Regions from separate parts of the Homo sapiens genome. Here regions 1 and 3 are each linked to region 2. Evidence: fine-mapped expression QTL. A gene starts in region 2. Each other region holds a variant in brackets. All regions are shown on one strand. Distances are between the middles of the regions.

Region 1 (4,208 bases), 110 kb before region 2:
AAAATGAGGTAGCCTCTGGCCTATTAAGAATGGAGAGAGATCTGCATTTCCCTTTGTCTTGGCACTTAATTCAATCATTTACAGAGTGGGAAACATGAATAAATGTTCATTGAAAAGAACATCTATCTCATGCTGCATCCCAAATTAATTCCAGATGGATCAAAGAGTTACATGTGAAAAATAAACACAGGAAAGGCTAGAGGAAAGGCATAGGAGCAGACAGTTCACAGAAGATAAAAAAAAAAAAAAAAGGCCAGTGGTGTGAAAAGACATGTTCTTGAAGATGTGGGGAGGCAGGAACTCTCAGACATTGTCAGTAGGTGTTTAAGTTGATCATTTTTAGATTTGGCAATAGCTTTTGAGGTGTCAAATGTTCCGTACCTTTTTATCCAGGAATTCCTCTTCTAGGTATTTATTCTACAGATACACAGTATTCCCACAAGTGAGCAAAAACTCTGTCAAAAATGTTCAGGCCGGGTGCGGTTGCTCACGCCTGTAATCTCAGAACTTTGGGAGGCTGAGGCGGGTGGATCACCTTAGGTCAGGAGTTCGAGACTAGCCTTGCCAACATGGTGAAACCCCATCTCTACTAAAAATACAAAAATTAGTTGGGTGTGGTGGCGCATGCCTGTAATCCCAGCTACTCGGGAGGCTGAGGCAGGAGAATTGCTTGAACTGGGGAGGTGGAGGTTGCAGTGAGCCAAGATCACACCATTTCACTCCAGTCTGGGCGACAGAGCAAGACTCCATCTCAAAAAAAAAAAAAAAAAAAAAAAAGAATGTTCAGTGTACGCTTGTTTAAAATAGCAAAGTAACTGGAAACCACCTAAATCTCCATCCATGGAAACATTAAATCAAGTAGAATTCCATGCAGCTGTTCAAAAGAATAAGATAGATTCAGTAGCATTCACATGGAGAAATGTCCAAGGAGCACTGATAATAGGAAACAAAAGGCAAGCTGGAGAGCAGTATGGATAACATAATTCCATTTGTGTTAAGAAAGAAAACAAGTCAATATAATTCCTAAATATAAAACAACAATACCTGGAAAGATTTATAGGAAGCTTTGACAGTGGTTTCTTCAGAGGGAGTGAGTTTCATGCTGGGGGTAACAGGAGAATTTTATCTTTGTGCTTTATACCTTTCTTTACTGTACAATGGGTTATTTTACAATGTACATGTAATCAGTTTTATAGAAGAATCAAATTTAGAATAGTAATTATCTCAAGGGAAGGAGAGAAGAGAATGGGACAGAGGTTATAGGGCCCTTTAACTGTATTTCCAATATTATGTTTCAAAAAGAAATTGAAATGGTGAAAATGGTCAATTTTATGTCAGCATATTTTACTACAATAAAATAAAGAAGAAATTGAAGCAAATGTGGCAATATGTTAAGAACTGCTAAAGCTGGGCTGGTGCAGTGGCTCACACCTGTAGTCCCAACACTTTGGGAGGCCAAGGTGGGAGGATTGCTTGAGCTGGAGATCCAGGCCAGCCTGGGGAACATGGCGAGACCTGCCTTTTCCGAAAAATGTAAAAATTAGCCAAGTGTGGTTTACTCAGGAGGCTGAGGTAGAGGGAGTGCTTGAGCCCAGGAGTTTGAGGCTGCAGTGAGCTATGATTGTGCCACTGCACTCCAGCCTGGGCAACAGACAAAGACCCTGTCTCAAGAAAAAAAAAAAAAGAATTGGTAAAGCTGGTTGGTGGGTACAAAGATGTTCATTCTATAATTCCCTATGCTTTTCCAAATATTTGTTGCACTTCACAACTTAGAAAAAGAGTTTAAAAATTCATTCAACATAACAAGATCAAGTAAATTAAAAAGAAACCAGAAAAAAAATGAAGCAAAAGGAAAATAAGAGCAGTAAAACAAAAAACTTTATAACCCATACTAAATGCATTAGATAACCTTTTATTTATTTATTTATTTATTTATTTATTTATTTATTTATTTATTTCTCATTCTGTCACCTGGGCTGGAGTGCAGTGGTGCCTCCACCTCCCAGGTTCAAGCGATTCTCCTGCCTCAGCCTCCCAAGTAGCTGGGATTACAGGTGTGTGCCACCACACCTGGCTAATTTTTGTATTTTTAGTAGACATGGGGTTTCACCATGTTGGCCAGGCTGGCCTCGAACTCCTGAGCTCAAATTATCCACCTAAGCTTCCCAAAGTGCTGGGATTACAGGTGTGAGCCACCATGCCAGGCCAAATAACTTTCTTACAAGCAGCTGGAGAAATTTAATCATTGTCTCGTAGGAGGTATAGGAACTTCATGTTTCTCATTTTAAGCTCTAGGAAGCACTTTAGTCCTGGAGCTTACAGTCAATCTGTAAGAAACAGACAGATTGTTGCTTAGAAAAGCTCAATTTACCAATCCAGCATGGAGGCTGGATTTCAGTGCAAACCCGAGGTGGGTGAACAGTTCAGAGCCTGTTTCTC[T/C]GGGTGCAGATGAGAGCCACAGAGAGTTCTGGCAGCCCAGGGGGGAGGGGGGCTGGACGGATTTATTACAGAGGGCCTCCCTGGGCAGAGGATTGGAACAAGGAAAAGGATGAGGAGCTGACCACCAGGGAAGCAGGTGCTCCCCGTGGGCCTCTGACTGAGCCCTGATCCTGTATGCTTGGCCCTCCTTTCATAGCATGGGGCATTTTGGGTGAGTGAAGATGCCTCCCGATGGTTTGGCTCCCAAACATTTGAGTCTTCTCACACGCCATGGTCTTCACCTCTCTGACCCTTCCCCTGCCCTTGCCCTGGAGAGCTGGAAAAGCAGTAAATCAGTGGAAGGGGCTGCCCCAACCCCAAGGCATTCGCACCCTTCCCTGGCCCATTTCCCGGCACAGGTCACAGGCAGGGTCTTAATCTGCTGCACCTGCAGTTCTTTGATCCATTTTGGTTTCTTTTCTTTTGAAAAACGTTGACCGCAGTGCAATCTTGACTCTGTTGCTTTGAAAACCCTCTTCCTGTGAACTTGCGATGCCAGTGATAAAGAAAAGGGCAGAGGGCTGCGGGTCTTACCAGGGGCCTTTGTTATGGGCGCTGAAGGGGAATAAATATCACAGGTGGGCAGAAGGTGGGGCTGGGCCTGGAGACGTTCTGAGGGCTTGGGTTGTTCGGGCCCTAGGCTGGGGACATCCAGGGCCAGGCGGCTACTTGCTGATAATCAGGCTTCCCAGCTGCCCTGGAGCCCAGTGGGGCCGTGAGCTTCCTCCCACCTAGATGCTACTGTCTAGGGTGCATAGGAGGATCCCCACACTGGGGGAAGTGAACTCAGCACTGCCCAGTTTCCTACCAGCTGGGCCCACGATTCTAGGCAGAGCTGGGCCTCCTGGTCTAGCTGCCTGCCCCTCTGCCACCCTGAAGGCCGACGCTGCGCTGCCTACAGGCCTGCTGCTGCTGCTCTCCAGCCTCCCACAGCTGCAGGATTGGGGTGTGAGTGAGTGTGTGGAGAAAGGGTTTCTGGGTTCCATTCCTGGCAAGGACTCTAAGACCTCCTGAGCCAACCTCTTGTCAGTGATTGTTCTGCTGCCCAGGGCTTCTGGGGCTGGTGACTGACTTCTCAGTGGCCCCGATTTTGTGTTCTTGTTGCTGACTCTTGGAAACCAAATGCTGGCAACCAGCCTGTGCCTGCCAGACTCCAGGCTGGGACCGTTAGATACATGATTGCTTTTCAAATTTGGAACAAGCAAAACATAAGCATGCTCATCAACACTCTTGTACAGAGAAGGAAAATGAGTCAGGATTGGGTGCCTTTTTCCAGTCTGCCTGCCAACTTTCTCCACCTTGCTCTGCCCCCTAGGACTGTGGGAACTACGTCTATGGGTGCCCTTACCCTCTGCCTTGGTCACTGGGGAGCGCCGATAGCTTATGGGAGGCAGAGAGGAGAGTGAGGTCAGGGCACTTAACCTCCTGTGGGGCAGCCACAGCCTGGCTGCATCCCTCCATGAGGCCACAGCTGCTGCCAGGCAGCCCTATCTACTCAGCTCCAGAGCTCTGCAGGTCCAGTGACCTCCCCTGGGGCCATCAGGTCCAGCATCAGGAAAGCCTGATGCTCTTGGTCCAGGTTCCTGCAATCCTTTTCCAAGACCTTTGACAATAGTCTCCTTATTGAATACTTCTCAAATCCCCCAGTTTGAGTATGTTGACGGCTTCCTCCTGGGACCCTGCATTATCCATACCATCCAGCCAGTTGATCAGCAAGGACTCCTGGGTCT
Region 2 (4,194 bases):
AAATCACTTGTAAGTAGTGGAGTCAGGTTCAAACCAGGGTATGTAAAGAACTCCAGTGCGGGGAATGAGGACCTCAGGCCTTGCACCAACGTGGAGAATGATTACGTTCCTCCAGAAGCTGAGCAAAGTCCAAATGCCAGCCTCAGTGAACCTGGGCCAGGGCTGGGTTGGTGAAGGAAGGAGCAAGTAAAACTGGACCCCTTTCTCAACAAGTCTGTTGGTTTATCTTTCTCAGGTTACTTCCTCTAACCTTTTATCAGTCTTAAGAACTGTGGTGTCAACATGTTATCTGAAATCATTATTGTACAGTGACCATGTCATTGTTGTATCCCCAGGGCCCAGCACGGTGCCTAGCATCTGGTAGCACATATTTGTCAAAAGAACAAAGTATTCTCTAATGGCATCATTCAACTCAGCCATCATTAACTTGGTACCTATTATGTGCTAGGTACCATTGATCCAGAGGTGACTGAGCATGGGTGCCACCTGGAAGAAGTCTCGGTCTAGGGTGGGGACAGAATGTAACCATCGGTACCACCTTAAACACTTCGAAAAGTACTGTGGAGAATGAATGGATGGCAAATGACTTATCAGAGCCAGCATTGAGGAATGAGCCAAGTCCAATGGGAACACAGGAAAAGGACCCTTTGCTCTGCCAGGAGAGTCACAGAAGGCTTTGCTGGTGGAGGATGAGATGCAATTTCAGCCTGAAATGATGAGGAGTTTGTCTTCAGCCATGTGGAGAAAGGAGCATTCCAGGCAGAGGGACCAGTCTGAGCAAAGGCATTCGGGTGTAAAATTATTGCCTAGGATTGGAGTGAAGGATATGTAGCGCTACTGACAAGAGACTCCTCTTCAAGAGCAGGCCACATATCCTTTATTTCCCAGGGGGTGGAAACGGGCAACCTCACAGAGGAATTGAATCATAATGAATTGAAGAAAGAAAAATCTCCTGAAGTTGGCATTATAATTAATAGGCTTAGGCTCATCCTACTAGTCCTCACTTAGACTCATTCTCATGTAGAAACAAAACGTGATTAATCACCTCAGTAAGTGCAATTTCCAAAAACATCCAGGGAAATCTAGGGTCCAGGTGCAGGACCTTTCCAATCTGAGTTGGATTTTGCCTCCAGGAGAGAGCATGGGTACCAGCCAGCATTTTCATCATCTAAGGGTCAGGTGCCTTGAAGTGTCTGCTGGCACCCAGGGAAGAGCCCCCCAGCTTGCTGTCACAGGACACAGCTGCTCCCTTCCTGGCCAGGTAGCTGGCCTCCCTCCCAGAATGGGACTTGAAGCTGGCCGGGCTGCTTGGGGGCTGCAGAGGAAGAAGGGGGCTGCCGGCAAACCTGCTGACTCAGGCTCCACGAGGGAGCAAGTAACACTGGACTCCTTTCGGCACTCCGAGAATGGGGTGGGGGCGTCTTCAAAGGATTTCCCTCCCTTCCCAGTGCTTGTCCCTGCTCTCGGTCCGTTTTCTGCTAAGATTTGGGGATTTTCAGGCCTGGAGGGAAAGTCCCTTGGGACGATCATAGAGCGCTAGCACTGAATCAGCCTGGAGAGCGCGGAAGGAAAGGGTCGGTCCGCAGAGGGCGCGGGGAAGGCAGGGTGGGGACGCGGTGGAGCCCGCGCTCGTTTGCTGAAGGCTTGGAAGTGCAGCGCAGAAGACAGAGGGTGACTAGGAAGACGCGCGAGCGGGGCTGGCCGGCCGGCGGGTGGGGGAGGGGAGGCGGGGGAAGGCGGCTGAGTGGGCCTCTGGAGTGTGTGTGTCTGTGTCAGTGTGTGTGTGTGTGTGTGTATGTGTGTGTCTGGCGCCTGGCCAGGGTGATTTCCCATAAACCACATGCCCCCCAGTCCTCTCTTAAAAGGCTGTGCCGAGGGCTGGCCAGTGAGGCTCGGCCCGGGGAAAGTGAAAGTTTGCCTGGGTCCTCTCGGCGCCAGAGCCGCTCTCCGCATCCCAGGACAGCGGTGCGGCCCTCGGCCGGGGCGCCCACTCCGCAGCAGCCAGCGAGCGAGCGAGCGAGCGAGGGCGGCCGACGCGCCCGGCCGGGACCCAGCTGCCCGTATGACCGCGCCGGGCGCCGCCGGGCGCTGCCCTCCCACGGTAAGCGACGGCCGCGGCGCTGGGCCCGGGACGGGCTGGGGCGGGGGCTCGGCGGCCAGGCGGCCGGGAGCGGCCCCTCGGAGCCGACAGCCTGGGCGCGCCGGCTGCACTGGCCCGGCGTTCCCGCCGCGGACGAACCGCCTTTGCGCACGGACTGGGCCCTGGCGCCAGGGCGGAGGCCGGTGGCGGCCCTGCAGCTGCACCGGGACTGCCAGGCTTCCCTGGGAAACGGAGGGCTGCTCACCCCATTGCACGGAGGGGAACACTGAGCCACCTGCAGGCAGGAGCCCCCGCTCAGCCAGGGTGCCCTGCCTCTCTCCCTACCCGCCACCACCAAGGCACGGGCGGAGTGGCTGTGCGCTGAGTGTGTGCCCTCCCCGGTGGGCACCTTCCTCATCGGCCACACACGTGCTTCCAAGGCCCTGCTGAGGAGTGGGCGCTTCTGGGCAGGGAAAGTTCAGGGGGTCAACCAGCTTATAGAACGCCAGGGACTTGCTGGCAGAGGGACGGAGAGGGGCAAGCCACTGCTTGTTCCAGCCCACAGGCAGGAGCTACGGAGGACTTGGGTGGCTGTTTGGGGGGTGGGGTGGGGGACGGCAACAGCCGGCAAACAGCCCCCCACCCCCGGGGCTGCTTGGGGCTAGCTCAGAATCTCTTTTTCTTGCAAATTCTGGTTTCATCGGTTGGGGAGATTCTGGGCTTTGTGGTGGTTTATGGTGGTTTGCAGTGCTTGAGGAAAATGGAAAGAGGGTTTGGTGTTGCAGAGCTGTGTCCAGGGGCAGGGTCTGCTCCTGACTGCGTAAGGGACGCCCTGCCCCAACTGTGGCGGTAGCAGATGCAGCCATAGAAAGTGAGGGTGGCACTGTTCATGACCAGTCAGTGGGCTCATAATAGATTTGCTTCTGAGGAGTCCTGGAAGAAAATGAGAGGGGAAACCTGGGGGGAAAAGAGCAGAAAATTATTTGGGGGTAGAGGAGAGCGGGCTGCAGGTGAGGTGAGAGAGAAAGGGAAGAGTGGGTCCACAGAAAGAAAGTGCCTCACTGAGAGAGAGGAGATAGAGTTGAGAGGGGAAGGGAGAAGGGTTAGCCATAGGCAGAAAGCAAAGCTTCGGGGCTGAAGGGGAGACCATGAGGAAAGAAGAGAAAGACAAGGGGGCTGTGTTTAGACAGGGGAAGTCCAAGGGCCCGGTTCTGCCAGGTCTCTCCAGAGGCCTTGTTGAGGGGGAAGATGAAATGGAATAGGATAGGTGGCAGAGGAGGCTGGACAGCTGGACTGAGGTGTCCTAGCATCTCTGAGCCTGCAGCAGAGATTCCTTCTGAGGGCTGCTCCCCAGGCAGAAGCCAGGGCTAGGGGTGGGAGGAAGAGGCAGTCAGAGGAGAGCCTGCCCAGCCAGATGCAAGCCAGAGTGTTAACCCCCCACTGTCTGTCCAGATCCTCCTGAGGCAGAATGGAGGCCCCAGGTCCAGGGGTATCCCCTTTGGCCAGCTTCGAAGTCAGCCTCTCATGTAGTGGCTGCACTTTCCCCACACTGATGCCTCAAATGTCATCAAAGCCAGACAGCCCTTGGGGTTAAGCATTGCTCCCACCTTGCTCTCCTCCAGGGAGGTTGTCTTCCTGAGCGGTCCCTTTCATCCATACCATTCACTCCAGACCTTGAGTGGCAGCCAGTCTGGGGTAGATACACCGTCTAGTGGCCCAGTTTCCTCCAATCATTCCTGAACCTAAGGTTTCTGAGTACCTGGGCCATTATTCCCACCCAGGGCAACCTCCCCAACAGAGCCTGAAGTCCCCCCAGCCCCCGTGACTGCCGTCCCCCTCTTCCACACTTTCCCTCCCTCAGATCAGCCAGGATCCTCACAGTCCCTGTGCTGAGTGGTATGAAACTATCCTTTGGCTCTTCCTTCCATGGCTCCCACCCCTCTCCTGCCATCACCTTCTCCCCATCTTTCAAGGCCTCACTGAGGTCCCTGCTCTCTGCAGTCTCCCTGGTCACCCAGCCAGAGCTGCCTTCTCCTCCCCAGAAGAGCTGGCAAGCATTTGGGCTTTTGGTGATATGTAGATTAGCACATTGTTGTGGGCTGTTTCATAGCCTC
Region 3 (4,238 bases), 49 kb after region 2:
AAAATGCAAAAAAACAAAAACAAAAACAAAAACAAACAGTAAGACAGGAATGAATAGGAAAAAGAAAAAACATGTTTGAAAGAAATTGGACCTTCGAAACAACACTTGCCCTAGAGAATTAACCATTTATTTGTGCACCCAACCCCCTCCCCCCCCCATTGATTTAACTTGTACATCCTTCTGGCATAACCCCAAGACAATTTTAATGTCATTTAATTATTTATAGTCCATCCCTCCTGGCCAGACGGAAGCAAGCCATGCCTACATTTAATTCCAGGGCTTAGCCTAGAGCCTGAAACAGAATAGTTGCTTAAAACACATTTCTGAAATGAATGAAATAAAGAGTAGGTCAATGAATTAACCCAAGTCCTTTGAAAGCTTCTTCTGATGTCATCATTTCTTCCTCCAACCCCACCTGGACTCTGGGGTCCCACTGTGCCCTTTTACCTAATCACTGACTTCCTCACTTGCCCATTTATGTGTCTGTCTTCCCCATCAAAGTGTGAACTCTGAAGATGACTGCCTTAATCATTTTTATACCCCTAGCACCTGATATACACTATAAACATTTGTGGGGTGAATAAATGAATGAATTACAGTTACAGAGGCAAGCAATTAGAAAAGCTCTGAAAGTTGTTAAGGGGAAGCTAGAGTATCTGGTCTTTGCATCCAGAAAAACAGACTTCTCTTTCCAAAGGAGAAAATGTGGTTAAGTAGAAAGCCCATATGCTTTGGAGAGAGAAGGCCTGAGTTCTAATTCCAGCTCTTCCACTTACTTTGGGCAAGTCACTTATCTTATCTGAGCTTCAGTTTCCTGCACTGTAAACTGGGAATAGGATTGGAGATAATGTTTGGAGGTGTCCACCACAGGCATGGGCATGTAGTAGGCTATAGCTGTGCTTGGCTATTATTACTATTTACACTTATCGTTATTAAGAGGTGTAGGAGGAATACAGAGCAAAGAGAGCCGTTAAATTTAGAATTTAGGGTTGTGTGCGGTGGCTCATGCCTGTAATCCCAGCACTTTGGGAGACTGAGGCAGGTGGATCACTTGAGGTCAGGAGTTGGAGACCACCCTAGCCAACATGGTGAGACTCCGTCTCTACTAAAAATACAAAAAAAATTAGCAGGGCGTGGTGGTAGTCCCAGCTACTCGGGAGGCTAAGGCAGGAGAATCGCTTGTACCTGGGAGGCAAAGGTTGCAGTGAGCCGAGATGGTGCCACTGCACACCAGCCTAGGCAACAGGAGACTCTGTCAAAAAAAAAAAAAAAAATTAGAATTTGGGTAGCTTTGGAGGAGATAGTTTGGGTGTGGAACGGAGTGAGGGGGACCTCTAGTCATTGTCATGGTGATACTAACCATCAAATACTGAGCCTACACTCCAAACACATCATTTCATTAATCCTCACAATAAATCCTAACGTCAGTGGTATCACCCCAATTGTCAAAAGGAGGAAACCAAACCTCAGAAAACATTTTTGAGTTTCAAGGTCACAGAGCTAGTAAGTGGTTGAGCTGGGTTCAAACCCAAACTCATTTGATTTCAAAGCATGTGCTCCAATTTTAACTTTTATTATCTTATTCTGAATAATCTGGGAGCTGAGAATATTCTGGAAATAAAATCCAGGTTAGAGACCTGCCAAGAGCCTAGACAGTGAGTTAAGCTGGGCTAAGGCACTGAGTAAACTCAGAAATGTCTGTTTGTCATCTCCCTGTGCTTACTGCTCCTGTTGTTAAAGATGTCTTAGCATCTTAAACAACTGAGCTTGTGCTGAACCAGTGAACTACATTGGGTGTGGGAGCTGGTCCTTGGGGGAAAAAAATCTCTCCCTGCACCCATATGTTTAGAAGCAGAAAGTTACCCGTGATTTTAAGAAAGCTGCCTTTTAGGAGACTGCCCTGGGCCTGGCTTATCACATGAATACAGAATACTGGTTTGCATTTCACCAGCCTACATCAGATGTTTGTTTTAGCATACCATACATTCTTAAAGCATGCGGGACAAGGAGATGCACTCCAGGAAGGGCCCTTTCAAAGTTTCGACTGGCTGTAACCTCTTTTGACCTTTGCTCTAGTGCACAGGCTCATCCTAGTCAAAGACTTGTCTTCAGCATTACAAAATTTAGAAACCAACTCTGAATTCACATGCATTGTTTGCCAATGTTTTTCAAGTCTTCTCACTTCCAGCTGGATGGTCTTAAATGTACTCTGACCCACACAGTTTCAGGCAAGTTGCAGAGCGCTTTGTAGGTATCCGATAAGTATGCCCTGAATTGAGAGGCTAATTAAACAAGAGGAATTTAGCAATATCACCTCTTGGCGTGAGTATTATGTAGCATCTGTAGTCGGGAGGGGTGGAGGGGTTGTAGAGCAGGGGTGACTTCTTTAAAACCTCTCAGTTTGCATATATGCCTCCCCTACGAAAAGTCCTGCTGGTAATAAACATAATCTGCCCTGTGTGTTCCCACCACAGGGGGGACATATAGCATGAATAAGAACTGGCTTCCCTTAGAGAGCTTTTCCAAAGGACACCATCTATTTACTCAGCAAATATTTACTGAGCAAAATGGGAGGAGAAGGGCAT[T/C]CTGGGGAGAGAGAAGAGTTTGAACAAAGCTAAAAAGGAGGGAAAACCAGGAGTATGTATGGGATACACTGAATAGTCAAATTCAGGTGATAAAATCTGAAAGGTAGGAGGGAACTGATAAGTAGAGCTTTGAATGCGTGGCAAGGAGTTTGGACTTACTGAAACAGGCAAAAGGGAGCCAAAGAAGATTTTGAGCAAGTGATAAACATAATAAAAAATGCTTATTAGGCAAGTTAATATGCCAGCAGTTCCTAAATTGGACTGGGTTGAAGAATAACAATATAAAGCAGCCAGCAATGATTGAGTAGTTACTATGTACCCAGCACCATGCCAAACTCTTTGCATACATTTTCTCATTTAATGAAAGTAATAATTAATGCATTTAAGACTCAGTGTCTGGCCCATAATGTATTCCAACCCTCACAATCATCCTGTAAATTGAGTATTATTACCTCAGTTTTATAGGTGATGTCTATATTGGTCTGTTTGCTATTGCTTATAACAGAATACCTGAAACTGACTAACTTCTAAAGAAGTTTATTTCTTACAGTGATGGAGGCTAAGAAGTCCCAGGCTGAGGGGCTGCATCTGGCGAGTCTTCTTGCTGGTAGGGAGTCCCCAGGTAGTTCGGGGCACCCCATGGTGAGAGGCTGAGCAAGCTAATTAACTAATTAATTAACCATTTAATCCATTAATCCATGAATGAATTAATACACAAATGAGGGCACTGTTCACATCAAATGTTTGAGAGTTTTTTTTGTTTTTTTTTTTTCTTTTTTCTGTGTCTAAAGGGTTTTTATTTAAGAGCCTGTAGTGCTGAGTTCCACCAAGGATTTGGAAGGTCACTCTCAGCAGCAGCCACTTCTGCCAGGACCAGTGGTGAGCACCTGGCAGGGCCTTGCTGTTTCCACATAAGGCAAAGGAATCCAGCTTTTCTGTAGGATTTTTGCTGCAGCTGTTCAAAACCTTGTGTGAGCCAGCAGTTCCAGTTCAAAGGTTAAGAGGGCGCATAGCACCTAGGTGGCCAGGTTCCTGTAAGTCACCACTCAGGCCATAAGTCACCACGGAGGGGAGAGACAAAGCAGCCACAGCTGTTCTGTTTCCAGTCCCACCCCTCTGGCAAACAGATGGGGGGAAATGGAGAAGAAAAGTTCACAAAGTCGGTGAAATGGCCAGGCACGGTGGCTCACACCTGTAATCCCAGCACTTTGGGAGGCCAAGGCAGGTGGATCACCGGAGGTCAGGAGTTTGAGACCAGCCTGGCCAACATGATGAAACCCCATCTCTACTAAAAATACAAAAATCAGCTAGGCATAGTGGCAGCCTCCTGTAATCCCAGCCACTCGGGAGGCTGAGACAGGAGAATCGCTTGAACCCAGAGGTGGAGGTTGCAGTGAGCCAAGATCACGCCACTGCACTCCAGCCTGGGCGACAGAGTAAGACCCCACCGAAAAAAAAAAAAAGTAGGTGAAATGAAGAGGGCAGAGGAGCTGCAGGCAACTACTTGCAGGCCCCACCACACACCTGACAGTTCTGCCTTCAAGATCCAATCACCTCTTAAAGGCCCTACCTCTCAATACTGCCACAGTGGGGGTTAAATTTCAACACGAGTTTTGGAGGGGACCAATACTGAAACTATAGCACTGCCCAAGG

Direction of the effects. Positions count from the first base shown, and alleles are read on the strand shown. Sizes are in standard deviations (SD) of each study's normalised expression. Not every link is listed here.
In carriers of allele C in region 3, the expression in esophagus mucosa of the gene that starts at base 1,888 in region 2 tends to be lower than with T alone (small effect, 0.13 SD a copy in GTEx).

Evidence for each region. PIP is the estimated chance that this variant, and not a neighbour inherited with it, causes the effect.
Region 1: its variant is the best candidate, but not a certain one, in a credible set for the expression of CSF1 in blood mononuclear cells (TOPMed, PIP 0.77).
Region 3: its variant is the best candidate, but not a certain one, in a credible set for the expression of CSF1 in esophagus mucosa (GTEx, PIP 0.54).

The regions. Positions count from the first base shown.
Region 1 is chr1:109,799,496-109,803,703 of GRCh38, forward strand. No RefSeq gene overlaps it. Among named protein-coding and RNA genes, the nearest start is that of LINC01768, 26 kb to the right of the region's middle. The variant T/C (reference allele first, on the strand shown) is at 2,440.
Region 2 is chr1:109,908,962-109,913,155 of GRCh38, forward strand. CSF1 (colony stimulating factor 1) reads left to right here and starts at 1,888. Exons shown (of 9, transcript NM_000757.6): 1 at 1,888-2,101. The coding sequence starts at 2,063. RefSeq lists silencers at 1,982-2,151, 2,202-2,311 and enhancers at 2,097-2,597, 2,598-3,098, 3,175-3,274.
Region 3 is chr1:109,958,089-109,962,326 of GRCh38, forward strand. No RefSeq gene overlaps it. Among named protein-coding and RNA genes, the nearest start is that of AHCYL1, 25 kb to the right of the region's middle. RefSeq lists enhancers at 1,731-2,302, 2,303-2,872. The variant T/C (reference allele first, on the strand shown) is at 2,586.